Homo sapiens: one gene and its partner. The protein of the gene in region 2 interacts with the protein of the main gene of each other region in a biochemical or structural test. Each region holds a gene or a part of one and is shown on either strand. Other genes may lie near its edges.

Region 1 (3,765 bases), on a different chromosome or scaffold from region 2:
GTAATTTCTTTCACCCATCCCTGGTTCCATTTTCTCAGTTCTTTTTACTGATTTAGATCTCTTATATCAGAAGTTCACAGGGGAGAGAGAGAAATAAGCAAACCGAGGACATGGGGAGCTCAAATAGTCTTTTAATATTGACAGCTAGTGTACAGAGCTTTCCCCTTTTGTAAACTTCAAAGTCAAAAGCTCTAAAACACTCATTATTTTTGTTTTTGTATCACAATAACACACAAAATGAACAAAGCAGGCAATATCCTTATTTCCTGGCGAAGGAAATAGAGGTGCAGAGGTACTCACACTGACTTTCCCCATCTGGTGCAGCTCATCTGAGGCAGAGCCAGAGCCAGACCTGGAAGCTTAGCACCTTAATATTTTAACACTAAGTTTTTTCCTACTATACCCAATGGCCATTTCCATAGTCTTTTGGATTAGAAGGAAAAGCTTTGCTTCATTCTGGGAGCCTCAGTCCCATTGGAGTTATGGCATATATGTACAACACACCCATAAGATATTAGGGATAGTGCTTGTACCCTGGGGACTCTACCTGAGTCATTGCCATGATATCTGAGATGGCATGTTTAAAGCAAACCTTGTTTATAATCTAGTAGGTCTTGGAGGTTGGGCCTGTTGGTTTTTCTGAAAGCCATTAGGACTCAGTTCATTGCTCTGTAGCCAAAGGCCATCCTTTCATTTCTGAGCAGTATTCTTATAAACATAGAGTGTTGGTCCTAAGAGGATCTAGGAGAGAGTGTACCTGACTCCATGAGGTCCATCCCTACTGTTAGCCCCTAAAGTCAGCACAAACTCCTGACACATTACTGCTATGCTTAGGGACCACAGCACATCATTTGATTTGTGGATGAAGGTACAAAGGAAGGTGTTCCCCTTGTTGTTTTTGATCATCCATTCTTGTAGCTCTCTTACCTTTCAGGCAATTCCTTGTGTCTAGTTTAACACCTTCTTGCTATAATTTCGGTCTGCTTCCAGTGTGACCTCAATTGGCTGACTCTACATCCTCTTTGCATCAGCCCCTTAGAAAGCTAAATGGGCTTCCCTTCTCTCCTGCACAGGGACTTTGTGCTTTAAACTACTCATCACCCATTGTCTTTCCAGAGTCCTGGAACAGCACAAACTCAACAAGGACCAGTGGGAGGAGCGGATCCAGGTGTGGCATGAGGAACACCGTGGCATGCTCAGGTAAGCTTGCCCAAGCAGTGGTGGGCCCCACTTCCCTTACAGGGTGAATGAGAATGCGTTCTAGGGAGAAGAGACTGATGACAAGGGACATTGGTGGATGTTGGAGAAAGAGGGAACAGGGACGATAGAAGGCAAACTAGGACCATTATAAGGCTGTTTTTTGTTTGCTTGTTTGTTTGTTTTGCTGAATGCTGGTAACTGGTAGCCCAAACAGTTTTGACTATCAAGAAATGGAGGGAGCTCTTACACATGGCAAAGCATTTTTGAGGGTTGTGTAGTTGAAGGACAAATATCATCATTTTGCCATCACCACATTCTGAGCCCTGCTAAGAATGTGCCTTTATAAGAGGCTGTCACAATGAATGAGAGAAAGAAAATTGCTTCTATGGCAGCCAACATGCCAGAGGCCAGCAAGGGTCAGCCCATCTTTATTCCCCTTGGGAGCTTAGACCCTAGGTTTTTGTTAGGAGATTTTGCTTTGCAAAAGTCATGCTGTGCTCTGTTCTCCATCATCTGCTTGCCTTTTGTCCCCTTTCCCACTCCTGATAGCAAGATCCTTGTCAGAAGTACAGAGTAAGCAGGCTTTCTATCTCCTTGGGTCTGACTCACAAGCCCCACTTTGTGACCCCCAACTCTGTGTCATTTAGGGAGGATGCTGTCCTGGAATATCTGAAGATTGCTCAAGATCTGGAGATGTATGGTGTGAACTACTTCAGCATCAAGAACAAGAAAGGCTCAGAGCTGTGGCTGGGGGTGGATGCCCTGGGTCTCAACATCTATGAGCAGAATGACAGGTATATCTCAGATCTCTTTTAGTTTATTTAGGTCACGTTAACATCTAGGGCTCACTTTTCACCAAGGAGCAGGGCCATATCTCTTGGGTCCCATCTCAGTTCTTTTTCTACCTAATTTAGTCCAGCCCAGATGATTTCACAACTTCCCTTAGTCAATACTAAATCCTGTATTGACTAGACTCACACTGTCAACTATGGTAGCCACCAGCCACATGGGGCTATTGAACACTTGAAATGTGGCTACTTTGAATTGAGATGTGCTGCTGTAAGTGTAAACTACACACTGGACTTTGAAGACTTAGTGTGAAAAACAGAACGTAAAATGTCTTAATATTTTAAAAAATATTTATTTACATGTTTAAATGATAATATTTTAGATATATTGGGTTAACTAAACTTACTATAATTTTATTACATCCATTTCTTTTTACTTATTTTCATGTGGCTACTAGAAAACTTAAAATTATATATGTGACAGTCATTATGTTTTTATTGGATCGTGCAGGCCTAGACTATCTTATCAGCATTTGTAATTAGTCTCCTGTGATGGTTAAGTGGCTTTTGGCCTATAATCCTCTCACTGTAGCCTTATCCCACTTGCTTATATTTTTCACTTGGTGTGCTCTTGGTGAGGATGGAGAGCAATAAATTATTGTTCCATATAACTCCTGAATCTTGGAGTTCATTATTTACTTTCTCTCAAACTTTTGTAAGCTTGGATAGAAGAGACTCAGTTAAATAGGGCTGGGGATTCCCTTGAGGAACTGTTACAAGTTCCATGCCTCAAACAAATACATAACAAAACAAACTTGAGACAAGGAATCATATGTTAGTTGTACTATCAGGAGATCTTTAGTGAACTCTCAATGCTGGCAGCTGACCTGGTGGCGTGTGATGACACTGGCTGAGCTGTCACTGAGTCTACCTCCTCCAGAGAGAAGTGTTTGTTTGGCCAGGCTCAGTGGCTCACGCCTGTAATCCCAGCACTTTGGGAGGCTGAGGAGGGAAGATTGCTCAAGCCCAAGAGTTCAAGACCAACCTGGGTAACATAGTGAGACCTCGTCTCTATTTATTTTAAAAAAAAAAAAAGAGAGAGAGAGACATAGAAGCTTGGAGGTGACAGTGAGGGCAAGCCCCCAGTTCTCTACACCCTTCTTGTCTTGCCCTTGTCCTGATGTTATTGGTTTCTATTTCTACAGACTAACTCCCAAGATAGGCTTCCCCTGGAGTGAAATCAGGAACATCTCTTTCAATGATAAGAAATTTGTCATCAAGCCCATTGACAAAAAAGCCCCGGTGAGTGATTCCTCCCTCTGACCAAGACAGGTACTTGCCAAGGCCTGCATAATGAGCAATCATGCTATTCTATTTTTCTCTTCCTTTTCTGATGTGTTTGTGTGTACGTGTGTGCGCGCATGTGCACGAACAGGAAGCACAAATAGAGATTGGGAATGGAGGGGGATGTTGATGCCAAGAAATGGCCAGCAGACATCCTGTACCTGGTTCTACTCTGCTACCTGTCTCTCTCACTGTGGATGTGGGAGAGCCACAGGCAGTGTTAAGAACTGCTTCTTAGCCATTGCCTCTGCTGCCCTGAGGTTCTGGGGTGGAAACCGAATGCATCTCATATTTCCAAGCCCCTGGGTCCCAGAAAGTGGACACTGTTCACATATTTGATTCCTTCCTTCCTTCCTCTCTCTCTCTCTCTCTTTCTTTTTTTTGATGGAGTCTCGCTCTGTTGCCCAGGCTGGAGTGCAGTGGTGCAATCTTG
Region 2 (2,488 bases):
ACATAGAAAGACCCTGTCTCTACAAAAACACAAAAAATTAGCCAGGCGTGGTGGTGCATGCCTGTAGTACCAGCTACTTGAGAAGCTGAGGCAGGAGGACTGCTTGAAGCCAGGAGTTTGAGACCAGCCTGGGCAACATAGTGAGACCCCGTGTCTACAAAAAGTAAACATTTATATATATATTTTTTAAAGTGGAGCAGTTCAATATAGAGTCTTTTTTGAACAAACGTGAAATAGATGTCTTTTTTTTTTTTTTGAGATGGAGTTTTCACTCTTGTTACCCAGGCTGGAGTGCAATGGCGTGATCTTGGCTCACCAGAACCTCCGCCTCCTGGGTTCAAACAATTCTCCTGCCTCAGCCTCCCAGGTAGCTGGGATTACAGGCATGCACCACCAAACCCGGATAATTTTGTATTTTTAGTAGAGATGGGGTTTCACCATGTTGGTCAAGCTGGTCTTGAACTCCCGACCTCTGCTGATCCGTATGCCTCGGCCTCCCAAAGTGCTGGGATTACATGCGTGAGCCACCGTGCCCGACAATAGATGTCTTTTAATTTTCTGGAGGAAAAAGCAAAGCAAAAGAAGCAGTGGATATTTTAAGACTAAAAAGGAAAACAAAAAAAGGAGATAGAGCAGGCCAGACGTGGTGGCTCAACGTCTGTAATCCCAGCACTTTGGGAGGCCGAGGCAGGTGGATCACCTGAGGTCAGGAGTTCAAGACCAGCCTGACCAACATGGTGAAACCCTGTTTCAAAATACAAAAAATTAGCTGGGCGTGGTGGCGGGCACCTGTAATCCCAGCTACTTGGGAGGCTGAGGCAGGAGAATCCCTTGAACCCAGGAGGTGGAGGTTGCAGTGAGCCGAGATCACGCCATTGCACTCCAGCCTGGGCGACAAGTAAAAAACTCCATCTCAAAAAAAAAAAAGGAGATAGAGCAAGGAACAGTAAGAAAATAGTTGGGTGCAGTGGCTATGCGGTGGCACTATAGGAGGCTGAGGCGGGCAGATCACCTGAGGTCAGGAGTTGGAGACCAGCCTGGGCAACATAGACCCCTATCTCTACAAAAAATTTGAAATATGAAAAATTAGCCAGGTGTAGTGGTGTGCGCCTGTGGTACCAGCTACTCAAGAGGCGAAGGCAGGGAAGATTGCTTGAGCCCAGGAGTTTGAGGCTATAGTGAGCTGTGATCATGCCACTGCACTCCAGCCTGGGCAATAGTGTGAGACTCTGTCTCAAAAGAAAGAACATGGCCAGGCGTGGTGGCTCACACCTGTAATCCCAGCACTTTGGGAGGCCGAGGCAGTCAGATCATGAGGCCAGTTTGAAACCAGCCTGGCCAACATGGTGAAACCCTGTCTCTACTAAAAATACAAAAATTAGCCAGGCGTGGTGGCATGCCCCCGTAATCCCAGCTACTTGGGGGTCTGAGGCAGAAGAATTGCTTGAAACCGGGAGGCAGAGGTTGCAGTGAGCCGAGATCGTGTCATTGCACTCTAGTCTGGGCGACAGAGCAAGACTCCGTCTTGGAAAAAAATTTAAAAAAAGAAAATATAAAATATGGTATAAGATTAAATATATTAGTTATGAAAATAATTGTAAATGGCTTATTGAACTTATAGTCAGTAAAAATCATGTTTTTGAAAATTATGTAATGACTTTGGAAAATACCAGCAATATAATGTTAAGTGGGGAAAAAAGCAAGTTACTCCTCTGTAATACATATGATTTTAGTTTTGTAATAAAAATTCCCAACCATATATGCACTTATAGGGAAACAAAGGACCCATCGCAAATGTTTTCCATGCTGATCTCCAAAGTGGTGAGTTTATGTGTGATTTTTATTTTGTTTATGCTCTTCTGTATTTTCCGAATTTCATACAATAAATATCTGTTACTTTTACAATATGAAAAAATAGTGGTCAAAAAGGTGTTCAAGGGGGTGGCCTGGGGGTGTCTGGTTTGAGGAGAGTGGTAGGGGATGAGGCTGCAAGTGGAGGTTGGAGCCATGCTATGAAAAGTTCAAGAGTTTGAATTGAGTTCTGAGGTTTGTTTTTGTTTTTGTTTTTGTTTTTTGAGACGGAGTCTCACCCTGTCACCCAGGCTGGAGTGCAGTGGCACGGGTTCATGCCATTCTCCTGCCTCAGCCTCCTGAGTAGCTGGAACCACACGCGCCCGCCACCACACCAGGCTAATTTTTTTGTATTTTTAGGAGAGACAGGGTTTCACCATGTTAGCCAGGATGGTCTCGATCTCCTGACCTCGTGATCCACCTGCCTCGGCCTCCCAAAGTGCTGGGATTACAGGCGTGAGCCACAGTGCTCTGCGTGAGCCATAGTGCTCTGCTGAGAGTTTGAATTGCATTCTGGAAGTAGTGGTGAAATCAACACACCTAAGTCTGCTCTTCTCCTCTCTTCTAGTCCCCAGAGTGGTGAGTAGCATCGTTCTGGTGGCCCAGGCAAAACGCCTTAGGACCACCGTGCAGCCCC

What was found. The genes of interacting proteins can lie anywhere in the genome.
Region 1: the proteins of SPN (region 2) and MSN form a complex in vitro, tested with the Homo sapiens proteins (2 studies listed by BioGRID).

Annotation. Positions count from the first base shown.
Region 1 is NC_000023.11:65,729,991-65,733,755, forward strand, and holds part of MSN (moesin), read left to right. Parts: intron 1-1,116; coding exon 1,117-1,200; intron 1,201-1,847; coding exon 1,848-1,994; intron 1,995-3,193; coding exon 3,194-3,290; intron 3,291-3,765. UniProt on the Homo sapiens protein: Ezrin-radixin-moesin (ERM) family protein that connects the actin cytoskeleton to the plasma membrane and thereby regulates the structure and function of specific domains of the cell cortex.
Region 2 is NC_000016.10:29,668,962-29,671,449, forward strand, and holds the end of SPN (leukosialin precursor), read left to right. Parts: 3' UTR 1-1,915; downstream 1,916-2,488. UniProt on the Homo sapiens protein: Predominant cell surface sialoprotein of leukocytes which regulates multiple T-cell functions, including T-cell activation, proliferation, differentiation, trafficking and migration.